Regions from separate parts of the Homo sapiens genome. Here regions 1, 2, 3, 4 and 6 are each reported to be linked to region 5. Evidence: microRNA targets listed by miRTarBase, many of them from high-throughput screens and not tested one by one. Region 5 holds a microRNA gene; each other region holds the end of a gene's coding sequence.
What was found. Region 5 holds the annotated microRNA hsa-miR-455-3p (GCAGUCCAUGGGCAUAUACAC, at 2,459-2,479, shown strand). A microRNA usually pairs through its seed, bases 2 to 8, with sites in the 3' UTR of a target mRNA and lowers its output. Matches are read on the target gene's strand: a 7mer-m8 pairs with bases 2 to 8, a 7mer-A1 pairs with bases 2 to 7 and ends in A, and an 8mer does both.

Region 1: the mRNA of GM2A is a reported target of hsa-miR-455-3p. The part of its 3' UTR that is shown has no 7-base or 8-base seed match.
Region 2: miRTarBase lists RAB19 as a target of hsa-miR-455-3p. The part of its 3' UTR that is shown has no 7-base or 8-base seed match.
Region 3: miRTarBase lists MRPS14 as a target of hsa-miR-455-3p. The part of its 3' UTR that is shown has no 7-base or 8-base seed match.
Region 4: miRTarBase lists PFAS as a target of hsa-miR-455-3p. The part of its 3' UTR that is shown has no 7-base or 8-base seed match.
Region 6: miRTarBase lists HYOU1 as a target of hsa-miR-455-3p. The part of its 3' UTR that is shown has no 7-base or 8-base seed match.

The regions. Positions count from the first base shown.
Region 1 is chr5:151,266,913-151,271,017 of GRCh38, reverse strand. GM2A (ganglioside GM2 activator) reads right to left here. Exons shown (of 4, transcript NM_000405.5): 3 at 4,105; 4 at 578-3,722. The coding sequence ends at 3,567. Among named protein-coding and RNA genes, the nearest start is that of GM2A, 16 kb to the right of the region's middle.
Region 2 is chr7:140,425,772-140,429,771 of GRCh38, reverse strand. RAB19 (RAB19, member RAS oncogene family) reads right to left here. Exons shown (of 4, transcript NM_001008749.3): 4 at 1,798-3,890. The coding sequence ends at 3,622. Among named protein-coding and RNA genes, the nearest start is that of RAB19, 24 kb to the right of the region's middle.
Region 3 is chr1:175,011,351-175,015,455 of GRCh38, forward strand. It overlaps MRPS14 (mitochondrial ribosomal protein S14), which reads right to left. Exons shown (of 3, transcript NM_022100.3): 3 at 1,608-3,501. The coding sequence ends at 3,319. It overlaps CACYBP (calcyclin binding protein), which reads left to right. Exons shown (of 6, transcript NM_014412.3): 6 at 1-677. Among named protein-coding and RNA genes, the nearest start is that of MRPS14, 10 kb to the right of the region's middle. RefSeq lists a silencer at 1,309-1,509.
Region 4 is chr17:8,268,515-8,272,619 of GRCh38, forward strand. PFAS (phosphoribosylformylglycinamidine synthase) reads left to right here. Exons shown (of 28, transcript NM_012393.3): 27 at 19-342; 28 at 440-1,972. The coding sequence ends at 750. Among named protein-coding and RNA genes, the nearest start is that of RANGRF, 18 kb to the right of the region's middle.
Region 5 is chr9:114,207,029-114,211,129 of GRCh38, forward strand. It overlaps MIR455 (microRNA 455), which reads left to right and starts at 2,406; the gene lies at 2,406-2,501. It overlaps COL27A1 (collagen type XXVII alpha 1 chain), which reads left to right. Exons shown (of 61, transcript NM_032888.4): 11 at 2,647-2,700; 12 at 3,954-3,998.
Region 6 is chr11:119,041,915-119,046,003 of GRCh38, reverse strand. HYOU1 (hypoxia up-regulated 1) reads left to right here. Exons shown (of 26, transcript NM_006389.5): 25 at 173-223; 26 at 350-1,816. The coding sequence ends at 411. It overlaps HYOU1-AS1 (HYOU1 antisense RNA 1), which reads right to left and starts at 1,816. Exons shown (of 2, transcript NR_186315.1): 1 at 1,259-1,816; 2 at 511-619.

The sequences.
Region 1 (4,105 bases), not on the chromosome of region 5:
AACTATACCGATTCATAGAGATCTTCCTCATTTTTTTTATAGCTCAATAATATTCCATCATGTGGGTATGCCATTGGTGCCATGGTTTACTCAGGCTTTCTCGTGTATATGAACATGACTTTGCTTCCAATATTTGCAGTCTCAGTGCTGCAATGAGTAATCTTGTGCATCTGTATGTTTGTACTGTTGGAGGTGCATCTTCAAGGGAAATTCCCACAGTGGAAATGGTTGTGTCAAAGGGTAAATGCTTCTGCAATTTGTTAAGTACTGACAAATTCCCCTCCAGAAGTCATACCAGTTTGCATTCCTACCAACAGTGATGACAGTGTGTTTCCCTATAGCCTTGCCTAACAGAAATGTGTTGTTCTTTCTTTCACCAGTCTTAGAGATGATAAATGGTATCTCAGTATTATCTCAATTTACATTTCTCTAATGAGTTAGTTTGAATATTTCATTTTAAAGAGCCATTTTTATATCTTTACGTGAGTATGTTCATGTCTTTTCCCAGTTTTTCTATCAAGTTTTTGGTCCTTTGTCCCTTAATTTTTAATTCCTTATATAGTAAGAACACTAACTGTTTGTCTATTATATAGGCTGGATAAATTTTTCTCCCAGTCATTTGATTTTATTGTGTTTTTACTAAGCATTTTTATTATCTTCATGTAGTCAAATGTGTCAATATTTTGTTGCCACTGGATATTTCCACCACGTTTCCTTCTGTATTTATATGGCTTCATTTTCTTACATTTGGATCCTGGATCCAGATGGAGTTCATTCTTGCATATGGTGTGAAGTACAGGTCTAACTTCAACTTTCTCCAAGGGGCTTTCCAGTTGGCTCAGCACCATTTATTAAAGTCTGCTTTGACCTGCGATTGAAGATGCCACCTTTAACTCCTCATCCCCCACCCCTAAGAAACCTCACGGAACATATGACCCAAGAGCAGAGCAGACATAAAAAGATTAACTGAGCTACTGAGATTCGGTCAAGAATGTGAACTAAAAATGAACTGTTGAGAATAAGGCTGGAAGATCCAACAGAGGGAAACGGCTGTGGAGGTCATTGCCAGGTGAGGTGTCAGATCCCCGGCATTGGGAAGTGGTCAACTCGTGGGTTGGTAAAAAGAATTCACCAACAACAGTATAGGTTTGAAAAAGGAAAGGTATTAGAAGAATGCTGCAGAAGACTGCCATGGGGCACCTCGGTGAGAGGACTGAATGTACCACGGTGGATTTTTCCTTAGGGATATTTATGGACCTTAAAGCGGGACCGTGGGGTTGCAGTGAGTTTCAGCATGGCATTCCGGAGATGTACAGAAATTTTAGTTACTTCTAAGGTTTTTTTCGGGGAAAAGAAATCTGGAACCAGATGCCTGCTTTAGATAATAGGAAAGTCTAATTACTTTTAATTTTCCCCAAATAAGGCGTTTTGCCTCTGCATGGCCTGATAGTCACCAGGTGGTCTTTGCTCCCTTTTAAATTCCTCAGATAAAAAGATTTTGTCTCTGGGACCTGTTCAATGGTCACTAGGTGATTTTTGCTCTCCGCAGTCATGATGTGATGGAAAGCAAAATAGCAAACAAGGGAGCTGGATGGCGATGAAGCAGAGACAACAAGCAAGCTCAAGCTCCTGCAGAAGGGTCCGTCCCTGGAATCACCTCGGCTCACCTGTACCGTTCCAACAAACCCTTCCAACCAAAAGAGCCCCACCCCAAAAATGCTTTTGAAATCCTGAGATGTGATCAGTGAAATATGCAGCCAAGGCAAGGGGAAACTGTCCGCAAGTTAAAAAGATTTATTGCTATTCCAGGCTTCAAATGAGCCCAGAACTCAGGGCTGGTGTGTGTTTCAGAAGTTGTTATGATGTAACAGGGTGGTAGAAAAATCCAGGCAGTTTGATGTCGAGGCCACCCTCTCTTCCTTGGACCCCTGCTCCAAAAGCAGCTGCTGGTGAGGCTCTTTCCCATCTGCCTCATTCACCCAACAGGACTCCAAGACTGAGGCAGGCAGCCTTGTGATCCCCACAGCTCACAGGTGAGAGGCTGCTCATACCTCTCCTAGCACTGGAAGAGCCTTGTCCTTGGGACCGGACACTATGGCTTTGGCCCTGTGGAGGGAGAAACGGTGCCACAGGAGTTGTCTTAAGAGGACAAGGCATGCACGGTCTGAGATCAGAGGTTGTGACGTGGCCACCCATGAGCCAGTCCGTTTGGGACACATCACACTGCACAGCTTTTTAAAAAAATAATTAGCTGCCAATCTTTTAAAATGGTAAGATTTCATATACAAATCTGGATTTTTGGCTTCTCTAGGAGTAAACATTGAAACTTTTTTTTTGAGACAGAGTCTCACTCTGTCACCAGGCTGGAGTATTGCCAGTATCTGGCAGTTGTCTTCACAGACTGGCTATGCACTCTCCAACTGACTCCAGTCCTTGCCACCCTTAATTATATTTCCAACTGGAGACCAGGCCTCAGCAGCCTTGTATCAATGGGCACATGTGCTGTGACTTTCTGTGTAAGAAATATTTACATTGTAATAGCATCTTTAATCAAAAAGGAAAAATCGGCTGGGTGTAGTGGCTCATGCCTGTAATCCAGCGCTTTGCAAGGCCAAGGTGGACAGATCACGAGGTCAAGAGATCGAGACCATCCTGGCCAACATGGTGAAACCCCATCTCTACTAAAAATACACAAATTAGCCGGGCGTGGTGGCAGGGCCTGTAGTCCAAGCTACTTGGGAGGCTGAGGCAGGAGAATTGCTTGAACCCAGGAGGCGGAGGTTGCAGTGAGGTGAGATTGCACCACTGCACTCCAGCCTGGTGACAAAGTGAGATTCTGTCTCAAAAAAAAAAAAAGCGAAAAATCGAAATCAAGCCTGGAAGCAACATGTTTCTCACGGTTCTTATCAGTCATTTAAGTCTCTTGCTAGGCCCTGCGGGTACCTGAGTTTGTAAACAACAGAGCACTCCTAATATCTCCCCCAAGGGATTCCTCCCCCACACACCCTACCTCTCCAGGATACACTGCACCCTAGTATTAATTGGGCAAATCTAGAAAGGAAATAAAAATTAGTCACAGAAGTTAAGGGAGGAATAGACTAAGAGCAAATACTTTTGCCCCTTCATTGTAACAGGGGGCCGGAGGAGAACAAAAACGTTAATACTCTCACTTCGCTTTTAACTTAGTGACAAAAAAAAAAAAGAGTGAAAGAGAGAGAGTCATAAAGATTCTTCAGGTCCTAAAACACTCTGGTTCCCATTCCTTAACTGCTTTGGAAATGAACGAGGCTCTTTAGAGAGAATGTTAACGGGGATGAGTAACGTGGTCAGCCCAGCAGATGCCCTGGGCTATCAAGAACTGTCCAACTCATTCTCCCTTAGGTCAGGGCTGCTTGCCCCAGCCTAAAATGTAAGTGGTACAAAATGATTTTCAGTGAGGGTAGTGGACTCACTGTAGAAAGGGGATTAAAGGGGGGCAGAGAGTGGGAGTTTGGCCTTGGCAAACACAAAACAGAGGAAAAGGGACCTTCCTCACACCGCTCCATTCTGCTGTGGCAGATGCCATGTTATATGCCCTTTAGAGAGGCAGCGATCTTGATGCAGCCCAGACGCTTCCCACTGCTGCTCAGGACGCTCTCTATGCGGTAGTTCCCGGTGGTGAGCCAACTGGGCAGCTCCAGGTCAGGCACAACGAATTCGCTCTTGGGCAGTGAGTAGGTTCCCTGCGGGAAAGCCAGTGGACCGCCAGTCAGTGGGAGCCTACTGATGGGGTCTTTCTCCTAGAGCCACTGCTAGGATTGCAGCCATGAACTACCACCCCTCTTCCCATTCTCAAAACAGCCGCACAAGATGAGAGACGGCCATAGCACTGTAGAGCATGGATTATTATGGATAAAGGGCCCTGAAGATCACATCTAAGTTCAAGTCTCCCATTTCGTAGATGGATAACTGAGGCTCCCGGAAGATAAGTGATTCCTGATAGGTCACACTGGCTTACAAATCCAGAGACATGCAGATCTGCAGAAGGAGAATGCAAAGACCCTTCTCTCCAAACCCCATCTCTTTAGCCACAGGGGTAACGCTCTCTCCTCCCTAAGTACTTACT
Region 2 (4,000 bases), not on the chromosome of region 5:
TGCCCGCCCTGAGTCGGCTCTGGGACACACACTGAACAGATTGATGGATCCATTCCTCAAGAATAGACTAATCAACAAAGAATGAAAACTCTGTCGCAAGACAAGAAATTTCTAAAAGGCACCTTAACTGAGAAAAATTAAGAGTGCTTCCTGATGATGGTGGAGAACCGGGAGGAGGCTTGTGCTTCGTAGGTCTCCTAGCTTTGCTCTTCTTCTCTGTGGTTGGCTTAGTTTATGGATATATTCCGAAGGTCAGAATTTAAATTCTGGCTCCTACCTAAGGACTCCTTGCAGACCAAGAAATGTATAAAGGAGCAGGAGAATAACTTAAGGCCAAGGAGAAGACCAGTCCAGGGAAAGAGCCCTAAAGACTGCCTTCCTCTCACTGAAAGGCAGATAGGCTGTGATTGGGGCCCTGATACCCAGATGCTAAGAGTGGAGCAGGGGGCTGGGCGCGGTGGCTCACACCTGTAATCCCAGCACTTTGGGAGGCCGAGGCGGGCGGATCACCTGAGGTCGGGAGTTCGGGACCAGCCTGACCAACATGGAGAAACCCTGTCTCTACTAAAAATACAAAATTGGCCAGGCGTGTTGGCACATGCCTGTAATCCCAGCTACTCAGGAGACTGAGGCAGGAGAATCGCTTGAACCCAGGAGGTGGAGGTTGTGGTGAGCCACGATCGCACCATTGCACTCCAGCCTGGGCAACAAGAACGAAACTCTGTCTCAAAAAAAAAAAAAGGGCTGGGCACGGTGGCTCACGCCTGTAATCCCAGCACTTTGGGAAGCCAAGGGGGGAGGATCACAAAGTCAGGAGATCGAGACCATCCTGGCTAACACGGTGAAACCCCGTCTCTATTAAAAATACAGAAAATTAGCTGGGTGTGGTGGCATGCGCCTGTAGTCCCAGCTACTCAGGAGGCTGAGGCAGGAGAATCGCTTGAACCTGGGAGGTGGAGGTTGCAGTGAGCTGAGATGACACCACTGCACTCTAACTTGGGCAACAGAGTGAGACGCTGCCTCAAAAAAAAAAAAAAAAAATGTGGCGCAGGGAAAGGGGGAACTGAGAGCTACTGCTGGATGAGAGGATGCCAGGAAGTCCAAGGGTGTTAAGAGGAGCAGCAGGCCAGGTGCAGTGGCTCAAGCCTGTAATTCCAGCACTTTGGGAGGCTGAGGCAGGTGGATCACCTGAGGTCAGGAGTTCAAGACCAGCCTGACCAACATGGTGAAACCCTGTCTCTACTAAAAATACAAAAATTATCCAGGTGTGGTGGTATACCCCCGTAATCCCAGCTACTCGGGAGGCTGAGGCAGGAGAATCACTTGAACCTGGGAGGTGGAGGTTGCAGTGAGCCAAGATCACACCATTGCACTCCAGCCTGGGTGACAGAGCGAGACTCCGTCTCAAAAAAAAAGAGGAGCAGCAGAATGCGGCTGGTACCTCTTTTCCCCTCCACTGGCATCACAAACCAAAGGGACCATTTGCTTTCCCCAGACCTCACACAACTTCTGGCCATGAGAAGCAGCTCAGTAAATGTCAGCTGCAATCATAAGTGGTGTTTGTCCTCCGGAAGCCCCAGGTGAGTGTCCACAGTTCCCTGGGACCCTGGAGGGGCTCCGTGGCCTGCTCCTGCTGCCTGCCCTGATGTCCCCTAACACAGTCCTGGAAACGAGGGGTGCCTGGTGACTTCCAGCCTCCTCTTACGTGTTTAGTTCTGAAAGCCGCAGTTACTCCATCCCAGAAGGCACCAGCTGCTCTCTGGCCATATCTTACAGAAGGGGCAGTACAACACTGGCTTGATATTCATCTATGAACCAATTTAATTTTAATTTAAAAATGACTTCTGATCTGGCAGATGATTTGGGTTCTAGAAAGAAATTGTGCCAGGCATGGTGGCTCATGCCTGTAATCCCAGCACTTTGGGAGGCTGAGGTGGGAGAAACCTGTGAGCTCAGGAATTGGAGACCAGCCTGGGCAACGTAGCAAGACTTCATTTCTACAATAATAATAATAAAAAAAGGCCAGGTGCGGTGGTTCACACCTGTAATCCCAGCACTTTGGGAGGCCACGAGACAGGTGGATCATGAGGTCAGGAGTTCGAGACCAGCCTGGCCAACGTGGTGAAACCCTGCCTCTACTAAAAACACAAAAATTAGCTAGGCGTGGTGGCGGGAGGCTGTAATCCCAGCTACTAGGGAGGTTGAGGCAGGAGAATCACTTGAATCTGGAAGGCAGAAGTTGCAGTGAGCCGAGGTCACACCATTGCACTCCAGCCTGGGCAACAAGAGCGAAACTCTGTCTCAAAAAAAAAAAAAAAAGGGCCGGGCATGGTGGCTCATGCCTGTAATCCCAGCACTTTAGGAGGCCGAGACGGGTGGATCATGAGGTCAGGAGTTCAAGACCAGCCTGACCAACGTAGTGAAACCCAGTCTCTACTAAATATACAAAAAAAATGAGCTGGGCGTGGTAGTGAGTGCCAGTAGTCCCAGCTACTTGGGAGGCTGAGGCAGGAGAATTGCTTGAACCCAGGAGGTGGAGGTTGAGGTTGCAGTGAGCCGAGATCATGCCACTGCATTCCAGCCTGAGTGACAGAGTGAGACTCAGTCTCAAAAAAAAAAAAAAAAAAAAAGAACAGGCATGGTGGCTCATGCCTGTAATCCCAGCACTTTGGGAAGCCAAGGTGGGCAGATCACCTGAGCTCAGGAGTTCAAGATCAGCCTGAGCAACATGGTGAAACCTTGTCTCTACAAAAAATACAAAAATTAGCCAGGAGTGGTGGCGTGTGTCTGTAGTCCCAGCCACTTGGGAGACTGAGGTGGGAGAACCTCTTGAACCCAGGAGGTAGAGGTTGCAGTGAGCCAAGATCCCACCACTATACTCCAGCTTGGGTGACAGAGTATGACCCTGTCTCAAAAAAAAAAAAAAAAAAAAGAAAGAAAAAAAATTGCAGGTGTCTTCCCCTATCCCAAGAGGGTGGCCAAGTCAGCCCTGCTAGAATAGAGTGAATTCCAGTTCCATCTCTATCAGACAGTTCCTGACCATTTGGCAAGATGGTACTTCTGGTATTTCTGCTAAAAGGCTTCGCTCCCCAAAGTGAAGACCTGAGGTGTGAATGTCAGGAACAAAATGATAGCAGCATTCTGGTTTCTCATTGCAGGCTTTCGTTCCATTCTCCCTGCCTGAGCTGTTTCAAACTGTTCCAGAATGTTCCAAACAGCCTCTTCTCTCTCTTGCTGTTTTGCCTTCCTCCTTTCCTTCACTACCCTCTTCTTCAAGCAAGAAACAAAATTCAGTAGAAAGCAGCAGAAGCTCTAGGGAGACAGAAAAGTGAAAGGGGAGAAGAGTACACTTCGTCCTCCCTCTCCTAGCCTGAAGTCCTGCCTTCTCCAGGAGTCAAGAGTCAGTGAAAACAATGGTGCTGGTTTTCCTGAGAGTCAGCAGCTATGACCTGTGGTGTGAGTCAAGGGAGAAGTGTGGCCCATCCAGACTGGGAGGATTAGGGGTGAGCGGCAAGTCCACGCTGGGGTCTAAAGCGCCACTGGGGCAACACTACGGTATCCTGGCTACCTTTGGTTTCAGAGGCGGCCTCTTTGGTGGGTGCAACTGGCTTTGCAAACATCTTAGCAAGTGCAGTGGGTCTTTTCACTTGGACCCTGGGCCATAAGAACGGGGCTGGAGTCCAGGGGGAGGCCGTTCAGGGCACTCTCCCCATATAGGTGCAGGCTGTTGCGCGCGATCAGCTCCTTGGCCATGAGCACGAAGACTTCTTCTATGTTCTTTGACTCCTTGGCAGATGTCTCCAAAACGGCCAGGAGGCCGTACTTCTCAGCCAGTGTGCAGGCATCCTCGAACAGGACGTGCCGCTTTTCCCAGAGGTCACATTTATTTCCTGGAAGGAAAAGATAAGCCGATATTCCATTGAGTAACTTAATCTGGTTTCTTTCAAAATGAACTTTACAAGTAACATTTTAGTTCTTCAATAGGCATGCATGCATTCAT
Region 3 (4,105 bases), not on the chromosome of region 5:
GGGTAAAGATGGGTTTTTAATGATACTAAGATAACTGAAAATAGGCATATAGATATATTCCAAGCCGCCTGACGATCTAATTGTAAAAAGTAAAGCATACAAATACTAGAAGAAAATGGAGGAAAACGACATTATATGTGACTTAAAACCTAGAAGAAATAAATAAAACTATTGATCAATTTTAACTACATAAAAATGTTTATAGGACAAGAAAAACCCCACCATAACCCAAGGCAAACAATGTATTGACAGGATTCCAATAATTAAGAATACTTCATACAAAAAGAAATGTAAATGACCTTTAACATGTAAAGATGCTCACCTTGTTCAGAAGAGAATAAACCAGTGTTTTTACCTTTCACTTGAAAAAGAAGTATAAAAACAACTGTATTGAGTTGAGGCTGTGGAGAAATAAGGACACATATATGGGAATGGAATGCAAAAGTTAAACTTTGGTTAACAAGAATATTTGGGCAGGTGCAGTGGCTCACACCTGTAATCCCAACACCTTGGGAGGCCAAGGTGGGCGGATCACTTGAGGTCAGGAGTTCAAGACCATCTGGCCAACATGGTGAAACCCTGTCTCTACTGAAAATAAAAAAAACTAGCTGGGCATGGTGGCAGATGCCTGTAACTCCAGCTACTCGGGAGACTGAAGGACAAGAATCACTTGAACCTGGGAAGCCGAGGGACGAGAATCACTGGAACCCGGGAGGCAGAGGTTGCAGTGAGCTGAGATTGTGCCACTGCACTCCAGCCTGGGTGACAGAGTAAGACTCTTGTCTCAGAAAGAGTATTTGGTAATAACCATCAGAATGACATATTCATTTATCCTTTGACCCAGAATTTTAACTTCTTTCTGGGCTCTGAAAGGTACATTTAGAAAAATTTGGAATGCTATATGCAAAAGATTAAAAATACTCGTGTCTATTTAACAGGAATGTATTATGGTGCATCCACATGAGGGAGTACTTAAGTCACAAAACAATGAAGAGTTCTATATAACGTAAAATGGTCTCCAGGATAGAGTAAGTGGAAAAGCAAAGTGCAGAACATTTATGGTATACCCACTACATTTGTGTAAGAAAGGGTGAGAAATGTGAATGTATGCACATAGGTGTATTTGCTTATGTTTCAAAAAGAAACGAGTAAACCCAAAGCTAATAAAAATTGTTAGCAGGGGAAGGAAGGAGATGAGGATGGAAGCTATTCTGTGAATTTAACTTTTTCTAGAGTTTTGACTTTAGAACCATCTAAAATTTAACATGACTGAAAAAGTAAAACATGACCCTAAACCTATCAACACATTGTCTTAGTCTATTCCTGCTGCTGTAACAAAATGCCATAGACTAAGAATTTATAAATAATATTTACTTCTTGCACTTCTGGAGGCTGGAGAAGTCTAAGATTTGGCACCAGCAGATTGGTGTTTGGTAAGGGCTTGCTTTCTGCTTCCAGTACGGTGCCTTCTCGCAGTATCAGAAGGGTAAAAGGGACAAACTCTCTCCCTCAAGCCCTCTTAGAAAGGCACTGATCCCATCCATGAGTGTGGAGCCCTCCTGGCCTAATCACCCCTAAGGGCCCCACCTCTTAATAATACCAACGCATTGTGGATTAGATTTTAATGTGAATTTTGGAAGTACACAAAATGTTCAAACTATAGCATGTATATATATCAAGTTGGCAGTATAAACTACTTGCAAGTAACTTTAGAACACAAGTGTTTGCCCATTGGTAGTGAGATGGATTCTAAGTTGAGATATTAGCTAGAACATTCCAGTTGGTAAGTTGTCATACATATTTAAGAAATATGAATCCAAACTAGATTGTGATAATTCCCTCATAACTTCACCTCCACCTGAGTTTCGGACTCTGCTATCCAGCTGCGTACTAGTCTTCATCAGATGACACAGGCATCTCCAACACCGCATGACTGGAACCTGAACTCGCTTATCTTCTGTTTCCCCTAAATTTGTTCTTTTTCCAAATTTTCTATCTTGGAGTTGCCCTCTTGGAATTGCCCTCTACCATCTATCTAGACACTTTTATCAGGAACCCAGAGAACCATCTTTACCTCTTAGATATAATCAGTCTTGTAAGTCTTGCCCAATTTTCTTTCCTAAAACTTTAAAAATCTGTCCTCTCTCCTCTACTAATACCACAATGTTAGTTCAGGCCTTCATCTTCCTCAACAACTAAGACATCCTCCTAACTGGTTGTCTTGCCTGTAGCTTTTTCCTCTCATGGCCATCTGCCACACAGCTGTCACTTACCTGTATTACAAACTGATGATGTCATTCCTGTGCTTAAAACTCTGTAATACCTGGTATGTCAGTCTTAATTCCTTCACATGATTTGTGAGATCCTCCACAATACGGGCCTTGTCTTGTGCTTCATATTTCTGATCTACTGAAGTGACTGTGGTTCTCTGATGCTACAGAGTGCCTTTGCTTCTTTGTGCTTTTGTTCCCTCTGTGTGCAGAAAAAAATCTCACCCCTCACCTCCTGATTTATTAAGTTCTCCAGGAATATTTTCCTGATGTTAAGTAGGTACTTCCATTCAGTATGTATATTTTTATCACTGGGCTGATGATCACACTGTTGAGTTACTGAATGAGAACTTTGTGCTACCCTTACTCATTTCTGTTATGGATTAAATAAACATAAAAATAGGGAATATATACTGTTCCAACAAACTTTTCCTCTTTAGATGGAGACTTTCAAGGACTTAAAGAGGCATAATTTGTTTTAAAGTCCCTTAAGGATGGACAAGAAAACACTTAGTGGTTCTTTTGTTCAGCCATCACAAGAAGAAGTGGAGCATTAGATAATCCAGAACAGCAGCCTTGCTATCCAATCTGTTTATCTAACAATAATAGTTAAGGGGAGCTCTGCAGGTCAGCAAAGCTAGTCCAGGATTACAAACTGCCATACATGAGCTACATGTCAATTAGTTGGATTATGTATAAGATAGCATTTTATGAAATAATGCTCTTAATACAAAAACCCCTATATGTTACTAAAAGATTAAACTTAAAAGGAGGGTATAAAAAACATTCACAGAAAATATTTATTATGCTACTCTTTGTACTATGTATGGGAACAGTATGTTTGTTAAGTCCAAGAGAAAAGATAATTCACTGACATGAAACACCCAAATGTCTTCATTTTAAAAGTAGTTTAGAGATAGCATCAGGTAGGCCAAACAACTGTACTGGGCCCCTGTAGAGATTAGGGTTTGGTCTATTAAAAAAAATCTTTGCTTGCTGGAACTGCAAGCTTGGCTTCCCTGCAAGCTCAATAGGTTCTGGAGCTCATTTACCATGTCGCTCGCTGGATCCCAGAAAGTTGCCCATGGTCAGCTAAGTGACGGAAGACTATACGACTAAGCCTCCAGCGCCGCTTCACACCACGCGGACGGGACGTCATAACACACCGATTTCTGATTCTAACAGGACAGCTATCCCGGGGGAGGGCAGCAATTTCTTCATCAGCCACATCCTAAGGGAAATCACATTATTACACAGATCACATTACATTGTTGCACATGTATTTTGCTCCTTCTCACTTGCAGGTAATTTTCTTTTCTTTTTTTTTTTTTTTTGAGACAGAGTCTCGCTCTGTCACCCAGGCTGTGGGTGTTAGATTGTGCAATGTCACAATCTCAGCTCACTGCAACCTCCGCCTCCTGGGTTCAAGTGATTCTCCTGCCTCAGCCTCCCGAGTAGCTGAGATTACAGGTGTGCACTACCACACTCAGCTAATTTTTTGTATTATTAGTAGAAACGGGGTTTCACCACGTTGCCCAGGCTGGTCTCAAACTCCTGAGCTCTGGCAATCCGCCCATCTCTGCCTCCCAAAGTGCTAGGATTACAGGTGTGAGCCACAGCGCCTGGCCACTGGCAGGTAATGTTCATTGCATGAGTACCATAATTCATTTATCCATCCTACATTTGATGGTCATCTTACGATTTGGGCGAATATAAATAGTGCAGCTACATACTCTTGTTTAACTCATTTGTAAAGTATGTGAATGTATTTCTGTTGCCGCCTCATGTTTTTTGAATCACGAAAGTGAAACCTCTGGAATGATGATCAAATAGGA
Region 4 (4,105 bases), not on the chromosome of region 5:
TTCCCTATTCCCTGCTAGGGTGGGCAGCTGCTGTGACCTTTCATCCCAGGGCTGGGGCTGAGCTGAGGCGCTTCCGGAAGCGGCCAGACACCTTCAGCCTGGGCGTGTGTAATGGCTGTCAACTGCTGGCTCTGCTCGGCTGGGTGGGAGGCGACCCCAATGAGGATGCTGCAGAGATGGGCCCTGACTCCCAGCCAGCCCGGCCAGGCCTTCTGCTACGCCACAACCTGTCTGGGCGCTACGAGTCTCGCTGGGCCAGCGTGCGTGTGGGGCCTGGGCCAGCCCTGATGCTGCGAGGGATGGAGGGCGCCGTGCTGCCCGTGTGGAGTGCGCACGGGGAAGGTCAGGCCCAAGGAAGGCTGGGGGAGGGCCCGAGGGTTGGGGGCAAGGGTGGGCATGAAGGACCTTGGCTCTCACTTCCCTCCTCCTTCCATCCCAGGTTACGTAGCATTTTCTTCTCCGGAACTCCAAGCTCAGATTGAGGCCAGGGGCTTGGCTCCACTGCACTGGGCTGATGATGACGGGAACCCCACAGAGCAGTACCCTCTGAATCCCAATGGGTCCCCAGGGGGCGTGGCTGGCATCTGCTCCTGTGATGGCCGCCACCTGGCTGTCATGCCTCACCCTGAGCGGGCCGTTAGGCCTTGGCAGTGGGCATGGCGACCCCCTCCATTTGATACTCTGACCACCTCCCCCTGGCTCCAGCTCTTTATCAATGCCCGAAACTGGACCCTGGAAGGGAGCTGCTGACTGGCCACAGGGGCTCACCTGGGCCCCATGGCTTTTCACCTAAGTGGGTCCTGCCCCCTCCCCCATGACCTTCAGGAGCACCCCATATTATTTCCAAAAATATCTTGGACAGACAAGGACCAAAATGCCAAAATCTCAGCGGACTCGATAATCTGCCTGCTGATGTTCCTTCTGTGGCTGTGTCTATTTTCAGTTCTGCTCTAACATGGCATGCCCTTTCTCAGCCCAGGAAACAGCATGTGGTTCAGAGAAAAGAGCGACAAGGAAAAGTTAGGACTCCTGAGGTCCGAACAGGGGCTTCTGTTGCCCACTTCACAACACCCAGTGATCACCGGTGTGCAATTGCCTCCTTGGCTCTGAGGGATGTTTTGCGCTCCCTTTTCTCATCATTGGGGTTAGCGGGTGCAGACAAATTCAGCAATAGTATGCAGATCAGCCCCTCACCACCTCATTGTTCTCATCTGGAACTGAAACTTTCTGGATTTCTCTTGAAGTGCTACACTGCACTGAATGTAAGGAATTGTTGCTTGTGGAAGTTTCTCAGCGTTTCTGGCTGTCTTAGGGCTGGCCTCAGAACCCAGCATTCCTGTTATTTGCTTCTAAATTAGCAGCTCTCTTTTTTTTTTTTTTTTTGAGGCAGTCTCACTCTGTCACCCAGGCTGGAGTACAATGGCGTGATCTCGGCCCACTGCAACCTCTGCCTCCTGGGTTCAAGCAATTTTCCTGCCTCAGCCTCCCGAGTAGCTGGGAGTACAGGCACACACCACCACACCCAGCTAATTTTTGTATTTTTAGTAGAGATAGGGTTTCACCATGTCTCCCAGGCTGGTCTCAAACTCCTAACCTCAAGTGATTCGCCTGCCTCGGCCTCCCAAAGTGCTGGGATTACAGGTGGGAGCCACTACAGCTGGCCCAGCAGCTCTGTTTCTGATAGAGGTGGTTGGGGCTCTCATCCCTAGATCCTAACCCTTTAGTATGCTGGAATTCTACTCTTCACTTACTGCATTGACTGTTGTTGATTAGTTATTATTGCAAAGCACTGTCACCGGCCTCAGGGAGTTTATGTGTAATAGAATTAAAAATAATAGCTGTGTATAACACTTAGCTCAAGCCACGCATGTGTGAGGCATTTGGTATGTATCTGAATTAATTCTCACTAAAATTCAGCAAAGGACTTGATAGCCCCTCCCCGCCTTTTCAATAAAGGATGAATGAAGGTTGACTGCATTGCCTGGGGTCCACAGATGGTGAGGGGGGCTGGGCGCACCCATACTACATCTGCTTCCCGCCATCCTGCAGTCTTACTTCCTGGAGGCAGTGTGTTGAGACTTTGTGCTGGCAGCTGTCTGTTGCTTCCTTTGCTCACAGGACTGTGGATAGAGGTCCCTTCCTCATGACTGTTCTGTTGTACACCTCAAGTCAGTTGGCTCCCTAGAATGTTCAACATCTTGATAAAAGGAGTTTGCCTGAGAATGGAGACTATAATCCCAGATCCCTGAGGGCTAGGAGAGCTGGGTGGGGGCGCTGAGCACTTCTGTGTGCTCCTGGTAGAGTAGCCACCCTGAGAAAAAACTGATAATAATGAAACAATGTTAAATGATGGCTATGGGGAAAACAACTATTTCAGAGATTTTTCTCATTGCTTTGCAAAGCGACCTACCCTGAGCAGTATGGGACTCCTCCGGATCATTTTTGACATTTGAATGTTCTTTCCTGACCCTTGGAAAGGATATATGTATGTCTTTCAAATTTATAGTATCGAACATACAATTTGGGGGCTGGTACCAAGGGTTAGATATTAAGTTTATTAAGTGCTTGATGCAAAAGTCAAAGGATGGCATGGGAGGTAACCTGGTTGGCTGTGATAAGTAAACTCGTGGATTTTGAAGGGGGAGCAGTTTCTGGTTTGGGTCGCAGTGGCCAAGTAAGACCCACCCTCCTCAGACACTATCAAGACCAAGTCCACTGGCTTTTCATCCGTGTTTTCATCCAGTAACCAAATAACCCTGTCCTTGCTGACCCCCACCCAGCTCCATTCCCACTCACCCACTCCCAAGGGCCCTCTGGTGAACCTTCCAGGCTAGCTCTCTGCTCCCTCCTTGCCTTCATGGAAAACCAGCTATCCTCTGAGAGCCACTTCTGCAGCCCCTCCAAGTGGTGGCTTTTCTTCTCAAACCTCAACCTCACATATCTCATCTTCCCCAGGCTGGGGAGTCGGGGTCCTCGTACCACTGCCAGACTGTTCACCCAGTTCAAAGAAAACCCTGCCCGTTGCAGGCTCATGCCATTCTACTACATCCCTTTCATCCAGTTCTTTGTGTTCTACTGACTTCCCCAGCGCTTCCTTTGGGAGAAGGTGCCAATTCTTCAATAGTTGATTCCTCTCTAGAAATACAATGTTCCTGCCAGGTGCGGTGGCTCATGCCTGTAATTCCAACACTTTGGGAGGCCAAGGCTGGTAGATCACCTGAGTTTGAGACCAGCCTGGCCAACATGGTGAACCCCGTCTCTACTAAAAATACAAAAATTAGCTGGGTGTGGTGGTGTGTGCCAATAATCCCAGCTTCTCGGGAGGCTGAGGCAGAAGAATCGCTTGAACCCAGGAGGCGGAGGTTGCAGTGAGCCGAGATCACGCCACTGCACTTCAGCCTGGGCAACAGAGTCTGTCCCAAAAAAAAAAAAAAAAAGAAAAAGAAAGAAAGAAATAGAATGTTCCAGGGCCGGGCGTGGTGGCTCACACCTGTAATCCCAGCACTTTGGGAGGCCGAGGTGGGCAGATCATGAGGTCAGGAGATCGAGACCATCTTGGCTAACACAGTGAAACCCCGTCTCTACTAAAAGTACAAAAAAAATTAGCCAGGCGAGGTGGCGGGCGCCTGTAGTCCCAGCTACTCGGGAGGCTGAGGCAGGAGAATGGCGTGAACCCGGGAGGCGGAGCTTGCAGTGAGCGGACGTTGCGCCACTGCACTCCAGCCTGGGCGACAGAGTGAGACTGTGTCTCAAAAAAAAAAAAAAGAAATAGAATGTTCCAGTATTTTAGCTGGGGTTGTGGCTGCTGAAAATAAAGATGACATCTCCCAGCTTCCCTCCCAGTTATGATTAAATTGTGGCCAATGGTAGAGAAAATGATGTATACAATTTGCAAGTGTTCTTACAAGAAGGGTACATTTTCCCCTTTATCCATTCTTGCTTCCTATTGTTTGGAATGCAGACACGACAGCTGGAAGTTCAGTAGCCATACTGAAGTAGCTTTGGGAATTGGTACCATGCAGAGCAACAAGATAAGAGGAAGGCTCTTCCTCTTATCTACTTGGGAGGCTAAGGTGGGAGGATCACTTGAGCCCAGGTGGTTGAG
Region 5 (4,101 bases):
TCATGGCGGGGCCTGGATGGCCCCAGCTTACACTGCACGCCTAAGGCGGATCTGGGATGGGGACCCAAGTCTTCCGAGGCCTGGACTTGCTGCCTCTCAAGGAATGCTCAGGAAGGGGGTCACACAGTCCTCGGTCAGGACAGATCACGTATCCTTTGCTCCTGAGCCAAAGCTATTTATATTTTGGCAGGAGGGAGAGGACAGAACAGTTGCAGTCTCAGCCCTAATCCCTGCAGCTGACTGGTGGCTGTTAGGAGAGTGTGGGGAGGCGGGAGTGGGGGCGGGGAGGTGCATTCCCCAGGAGGTTACTGTGACAGGCAGGGCCTAAGGAGGCTCTTGTCCCAGGGTGCTGTGCCTCTCTTCCTTTATTCTGCTGCTCCCATGGGCCATTCCCCCAGAGGGACCCCCTAAACCCAAGGAGAAAGGTCTTCTCAGTCCAGCCCCAGTCCTGATCTCCTGACCTGCCAGAAGGACAGGCATGTTAATGACATCTGGGGTTGCTCGACTTGCCTGCCAGGCTGGTGGCATCTCAAAGTCACATAGCAGGAGAGGACTGGTCTGGCCCCAGCACTCCTGTCTCTTACAGGCCACACAGCCCTGGGTGGGAAGCCTGGATGAGCAGTGAGTCACTCAAGCTGCCCTTCCAACCCTGCCACCACCAGCCTCATATTTCTGAAGTAGGCAGAGGGCAGGCTTTGGAATCAGGATGACAGGCTTTGAGACCTGCCCTGCCATTAGCTAGCTGTGGGAGCTTGGGCAAGTCACTGGGCCTCTCTGAGCCAATTATTTTCTCACCTGTAAATCTGGGAGATAAGCACTATTTGGAATGGCAGTAAATGGCACTCTTTCAGATTATGGATATTAATCATGCTGGATGCCAACGAGGAGGCTCAGTGGCTTCTTGGCCTTCCAGGGAAGGAGAGATGGTTGTGAGCCTCCATTGGTTGCTTGTTTGAGGAGAGGCAGTATGCAGAGTGGTTAGGAGCCCAGGCCCAGGAGTCAGAAGACTTGAATTTGAATACCAGTTCTACCACATTTCAGCTGTTTGGTCCTAGGCAAGTTGCTTCACCCCTCTGGGCCTAAATGGTCTTACCTCTACAGGGGGCTGAGTAATAATACTTCCTCAGGGCTGGGCGCGGTGGCTCGTGCCTGTAATCCCAGCATTTTGGGAGGCCAAGGCGGGTGGATCACCTGAGGCCAGGAGTTCGAGACCAGCCTGGTCAACATAGCGAAACCCCGTCTCTACTAAAGTAACTACAAAAATTAGCTGGGCGTGGTGGTGCACACCTGTGATCACCTGTGATCAGCTATTCAGGAGACTGAGGCAGGAGAATCGCTTGAACCCGGTAAGCAGAGGTTGCAGTAAGCCACGATCGCACCACTGCACTCCAGCCTGGATGACAGAGCAAGACTCCGTCTCAAAAAATATATATAAATAAAAAAATAATAAAATATAATACTTCCTCGGGGTGTGATAAGGATGGAATAAATGCTTTAATATATGCAAAGCACTGGCAGCAGGCCTGGCCTATCATTCGTGCTCAATAAACATTAGCTTTTGTTAGAGTTATTATTAAATCATTCCACCAAGAGTGGCACGCAGATAGTGGTAGAAGCCCCGGGCGAGGTTACTGCCCTTTAGAAGTTCCCAGGCTAATGAGGACGTGAAGCATGAACACAAATAATGAAGATACAAGGGAGAAAGTGGAGAAGGATGCTACCGAGGTGCAAAAATGGCACTGGGGATGGGGGGGAGAGATTGCTTCCGGCTTGGGGTATCAGGGATGCTTGCCCAAGGAGAGCGCTTATGAGAGCTGGGCTTTGAAGGATTTGGCTCAGAAGTCATGAGGGATGGGAAGGACATGCCTGGTGGAGGGGACAGAGTGAGGAAAGGCTGGGAGGGAGGAAATGAGATGCATCCTAGGGAAGAGCCCCAGAATGGTGACGAGCCCCAGCTGTGGAGTCAGCTGGCCCTGGGTGACCCTTGAACTGATTAGGAATTCCCGAAGAGAATTCACAGCTCCACTACTGACTAGTCGTGTTGCTTTATCTACAGAGCCTCAGTTTCTTTGTCTGTCCAGTGTGGGTGGTGACAATCTGGGGGGTCCTTGTGAGAGTCTAATGTGGTAGCATGCATGTGCCTGGCACAATGTTGGCACTCCGGGTTCGCAGCCGCTGTTAGTTAATGCCAGCACTCAGGCGGCCAGAGGTGGATGTAAGCCCTACATCCAGGACCTTGAAGGCCTAGGAGGAGCCATGGCAGGAGCCACGGGCACCTACCAGCATCCCTGGGGGTGGGCAGGGCTTGGTGCCGTGCTAGCATCTAACCCAGCCGCGAGCTTCCTTCTGCAGGTCCTGGAGCCCTGGCGTGGGGCGGGCCTCCTGCCGGCGAGCGCCTGCGCCCTTCCCTGGCGTGAGGGTATGTGCCTTTGGACTACATCGTGGAAGCCAGCACCATGCAGTCCATGGGCATATACACTTGCCTCAAGGCCTATGTCATCGAGGAGCCACCGGAGCTGCCACTGCCACCAGGGAGGAAGAGGAGGAGCCGGGATGTGGGATGGCAGTGGTGGGTGGGCTGCGGCAGGTTGGGCCAGCCACACCTCACTGCTTGACCGCTCTGACCCCCTTTCTTCTCTTTCCTAGGGCTACATTGGGCTCCCAGGGCTCTTCGGCCTGCCAGGGTCTGATGGAGAACGAGTAAGTTTGCTTCTTTGGTTATTCACCATCCACAGCCACCCCTGCCCAAACAGAGCAGAACCTGCCAGGCACCAGCCTGGGGAAGTCAAGGAATTCCTCCTGGAGGAGGTGCACTTGAGTCGAGTAGGAGTCTGATAAGGGGACAAGTCAAGGCAGATGCATTCCAGGCATAGGGAACAGCATGTGCGAAGTCAGGGATTTACGGTAACTTGGCGAGTTTAACACTCAACACTGCCAAAGTGCTGCGTGAGAGGGTGAGAGTGGTGGGAGTTGAGGCTGGAGAGGACCCTGGGGCAATGTCTTAGGTGCCCAGGACTAAGGTTAGAAAAGGAACTCTGTTCTGAGGGTATGCGGAGCCTCTTGAGGACTTGCAACCAATGAACACCGGGCCCACTTTATAATATAGATCAGGGGTCTGCAAACGGTGGCCCATGGGCCAAATCCAGCCAGTTGTCTGTTTTTGCAAACAGTTTTATTGAACTCAGCCTTGCTCATTTGGTTACATATTGTCAATGCCGCTTTCTCACTACAATGGCAGAGTTGAGTAGGTGTGACAGAGACCGTATGGCCCACAGAGCCAAAGATATTCACTATCTGCCCCTTTCCAGAAACCATCTGCTGATTCCTCTTTTAGACAGATCAGTTGGTTTACTTGAGTAAAATGTGTTGGTTGGGGGTGGGGACAGCAAGAGCAGGTGGCAGGAGTTCCAGCAGCCAGGGGGAGCGGCTGTCTGGGGAAGGTGGTGGGACTGGTTTGGTGGTGGGCAGTGGGTGCTAAGATTTCCTAAGACACCCTGTCCTTCCAGACCAAGTATCTAAGTCAGAGGAGTCCAAAAGATGGTGTGGGAGCTTCTCACAGACCCCTGGCCCAGCCTGGAGGTCCATTAGAAGCCCCTGGGGTGGTGGCCTCGGGATCTTCCTCCCCGCCCCCTCCCAACCTGAGCCCGTATCTATGGGAACTCACTTGTAACCTCCATAAGCTGGGTATAGAGAACCTTAGGACAGCTGGAGCCTGAGCATTTATGAAGCACCTGCTGATTACAGGAACTGGCATTTCTCTGTCTCTTAGGTCACCACAGACCCCGACCCTGCCATCCGTCTGATGTGCATGTCACTGGGGCCGCCACGCAAGTGGCACACATTCCAGGCCCTCTGTGACTTCCTGCCGTGGGTGGCTCTGGGCTGGTTTGGGGCAAGCCTGGCTGTCCCTGCTGGCATCCTGCCCTGACCTCTCCCCTGTCTCTCCCCTGCAGGGCCTGCCTGGCGTTCCTGGCAAGAGGGGCAAGATGGGTATGCCGGTAAAGATTTTCCGTGTCTATTACGCAGACTCTAGCGGGGAACCCCACCTCCCACGGCCACGCTGCCCTGGCCACCTGCTGCCTGGCATCTTCTGCTTCTCCC
Region 6 (4,089 bases), not on the chromosome of region 5:
CAGCCTGGGCAACAGAGACTCTGTCTCAAAAAACAGAGTAGGCAAAGAGACCAAATGTGGTACATGCATCCTAAAATATTTACTAGCTGGCTCTTCATGGAAAAACTGGCCCAGCCTTCCCTTAGCCTCTTCCTCCCTTCTGAGGAGACTAACCTGTTTCTTCCCAAAGCAGGATCCGAGCCAGGAGACACTGAGCCTTTGGAGTTAGGAGGTCCTGGAGCAGGTGAGGATGGAGCCGGGGCTACGGTGGGAAGCCTGGTGGGGTCTCAGGAAATCCTTTGCAAAGAACTGGGGTTGGTTCCTCTGTTTCACCTGCGGTGATTCCTTTGCTCCCCCAAACTCCCAACAGAACCTGAACAGAAAGAACAATCGACAGGACAGAAGCGGCCTTTGAAGAACGACGAACTATAACCCCCACCTCTGTTTTCCCCATTCATCTCCACCCCCTTCCCCCACCACTTCTATTTATTTAACATCGAGGGTTGGGGGAGGGGTTGGTCCTGCCCTCGGCTGGAGTTCCTTTCTCACCCCTGTGATTTGGAGGTGTGGAGAAGGGGAAGGGAGGGACAGCTCACTGGTTCCTTCTGCAGTACCTCTGTGGTTAAAAATGGAAACTGTTCTCCTCCCCAGCCCCACTCCCTGTTCCCTACCCATATAGGCCCTAAATTTGGGAAAAATCACTATTAATTTCTGAATCCTTTGCCTGTGGGTAGGAAGAGAATGGCTGCCAGTGGCTGATGGGTCCCGGTGATGGGAAGGGTATCAGGTTGCTGGGGAGTTTCCACTCTTCTCTGGTGATTGTTCCTTCCCTCCCTTCCTCTCCCACCATGCGATGAGCATCCTTTCAGGCCAGTGTCTGCAGAGCCTCAGTTACCAGGTTTGGTTTCTGAGTGCCTATCTGTGCTCTTTCCTCCCTCTGCGGGCTTCTCTTGCTCTGAGCCTCCCTTCCCCATTCCCATCCAGCTCCTTTCCCCCTGGGTTTCCTTGGCTTCCTGCAGCAAATTGGGCAGTTCTCTGCCCCTTGCCTAAAAGCCTGTACCTCTGGATTGGCGGAAGTAAATCTGGAAGGATTCTCACTCGTATTTCCCACCCCTAGTGGCCAGAGGAGGGAGGGGCACAGTGAAGAAGGGAGCCCACCACCTCTCCGAAGAGGAAAGCCACGTAGAGTGGTTGGCATGGGGTGCCAGCATCGTGCAAGCTCTGTCATAATCTGCATCTTCCCAGCAGCCTGGTACCCCAGGTTCCTGTAACTCCCTGCCTCCTCCTCTCTTCTGCTGTTCTGCTCCTCCCAGACAGAGCCTTTCCCTCACCCCCTGACCCCCTGGGCTGACCAAAATGTGCTTTCTACTGTGAGTCCCTATCCCAAGATCCTGGGGAAAGGAGAGACCATGGTGTGAATGTAGAGATGCCACCTCCCTCTCTCTGAGGCAGGCCTGTGGATGAAGGAGGAGGGTCAGGGCTGGCCTTCCTCTGTGCATCACTCTGCTAGGTTGGGGGCCCCCGACCCACCATACCTACGCCTAGGGAGCCCGTCCTCCAGTATTCCGTCTGTAGCAGGAGCTAGGGCTGCTGCCTCAGCTCCAAGACAAGAATGAACCTGGCTGTGTCAGTCATTTTGTCTTTTCCTTTTTTTTTTTTTTTTGCCACATTGGCAGAGATGGGACCTAAGGGTCCCACCCCTCACCCCACCCCCACCTCTTCTGTATGTTTGAATTCTTTCAGTAGCTGTTGATGCTGGTTGGACAGGTTTGAGTCAAATTGTACTTTGCTCCATTGTTAATTGAGAAACTGTTTCAATAAAATATTCTTTTCTACAGTTTTTGTGCTGTGAGTTTTTAAAAATAGAAAAATTTTGGGCCAGGCATGGTGGCTCATACCTGTCATCTTAACATTTTGGGAGGCCAAGATGGGAGGATAGCTTGAGGTCGGACCAGCCTGGGCAACAGCAAGACTCTGTCTCAAAAAAAAAAAAAAAAAGTATCTGAGTGTGGGGATGTGTGCCTGTAGACCCAGCTACTTGGGAGACTGAGGCTGGAGGGTGGGTCCCTTGGGCCCAGGACTTCGAGGCTTCAGTGAGCTATGATCGTGCCACTGCACTCCAGCATGTGTGACAGTGAAAACCTCAAAAAGTTTGAATAATTACATCATCAAAATGTTATTGACACTTTGGACTTAGTTGAGATTTGTATATGTATTTTTTTCAAGGAAACAAAATACTGGTTTTATTTTACTGCTAACATTATTTGGACTCCTATATCCCAGGCATTTTTAAGTAACGTACTTTTTTTTTTTTTTTTTCTTTGAGACTGGGTCCTGCTCTGTTGCCCAGGCTGGAGTATAGTAATGCGATCCAGGCTCACTGCAACCTCCGCCTCCCGGGTTCAAGTGATTCTACTGCCCCAGCCTCCTGAGTAGCTGGGATTACAGGCACCTGCCACCATACCCAGCTAAATTTTTTTTGTATTTTAGTAGAGACGGGGTTTCACCATGTTGGCTAAGCTGGTCTGGAACTGACCTGAAGCGATCCACCTGCCTTGGGCTCCCAAAGTGCTGGGTTTACAGGCCTGAGCCACTGGGCCCAGCTGGTAACATTAATTTTTAAAATAGCAACCTCATTGTACAAATAAGATACCAGTTCATAGAGATTTAGCAAGTAATTGGTCCAAGGAATGAATCAATGTTGAGTGCTTCAGCTAGGTTTGAGCTTAATTCTGACCATTCGCCCTTGTTCTTCGTACTTAGCCGTGGGAATGTGTTGGTAGAGACCATTTGTAGCAGTTTCGGTTCATCAGTTTGGGATGCAGCATGCCTAGCCCAAATTTTCTATTACCAAGGGAGGATCCCTCTTGTCACTAATCATGTACATATCTAAGCAGTTGTATACGGTATACAGGGTGTTGCTCTGTCACCCAGGCTGGAGTGCAATGGTGCCATCTTGGCCCACTGCAGCCGCGACCTCCCAGGCTCAAGCAATCCTCCCACCTCAGCCCTGTAGCAGGGACTACCTGGCTAATTTTTGTATTTTCTGGTCGAGACGGGGTTTCACTATGTTGCTCAGGCTGGTCTTGAACTCCTGGACTCAAATGATCTGCTTGCCTTGGCCTCCCAAAGTGCTGGGATTACAGGTATGAGCCACTGAGCTTGGCCCCGTTGTATTTACATTTAATAACCATGAAGGCCCAGCCGGGTGTAGTAGCTCACGCCTGTAGTCCTAGCACTTTGGGAGGCCAAGGCAGGCGGATCATGAGGTCAGGAGATCCGAGACCATCCTGGCTAACACAGTGAAACTCCGTCTCTACTAAAAATACAAAAAATCAGCCGGACATGGTGGCACCCGCCTGTAGTCCCAGCTACTCAGGAGGCTGAGACAGGAAAATCAATTGAACCCGGGAGGATGAGGTTGCAGTGAGCTGAGATCGTGCCACTGCACTCCAGCCTGGGCGACAGCTAGACTCTGTCACACACAAAAAAAATAACCACGAAGGGTTGTCTTTTTTCTCTAAAAGTTGAACAAGTCAGATAAGTTTTGAATGTGGAAGTTTTGGGTTTTTGTTTTTTTTTTTTTGGATGACTTTTAGACAGTTTCAGATTCACAGCAGAATTGAGCAGGAGGTACAGAGTTGCCATATACCTCCTGTCCCCACATACTCAATCTCCCCCAGAGTGGTACATTTGTTACAATCACCCAAAGTTCTGTATGACACCATAATGGTGGGTACATATACATTTGTCAAAACCTATAGAATGTGCAACACCAAGACAACTGAAAGTGTAGACTTTGGGCAAATATGATGAGTCAGTGTAGGTTCCTCAGATGTAACACCTGTAGACCTCTGGTGTGAAGTGTTTATTATGGGGGAAGCTGTGAGTGTATGGAGGAAGGGAATATACGGGAACTCTGTATTTTCCCCTCAATTTTGCTGTGAACCTAAAAGTGCTCTAAAAAAAAAAGGCGAAGCTAAGTGCAGTGACTCATGGCTGTAATACCAGTGTTTGGGGAGGCAGGAGTGGAAGGATCGCTTGAGGCCAGGAGTTTGAGACAACATAGCCAGACCTCATCTCTACAAAAAATAGTAGTCCTAGCTACTC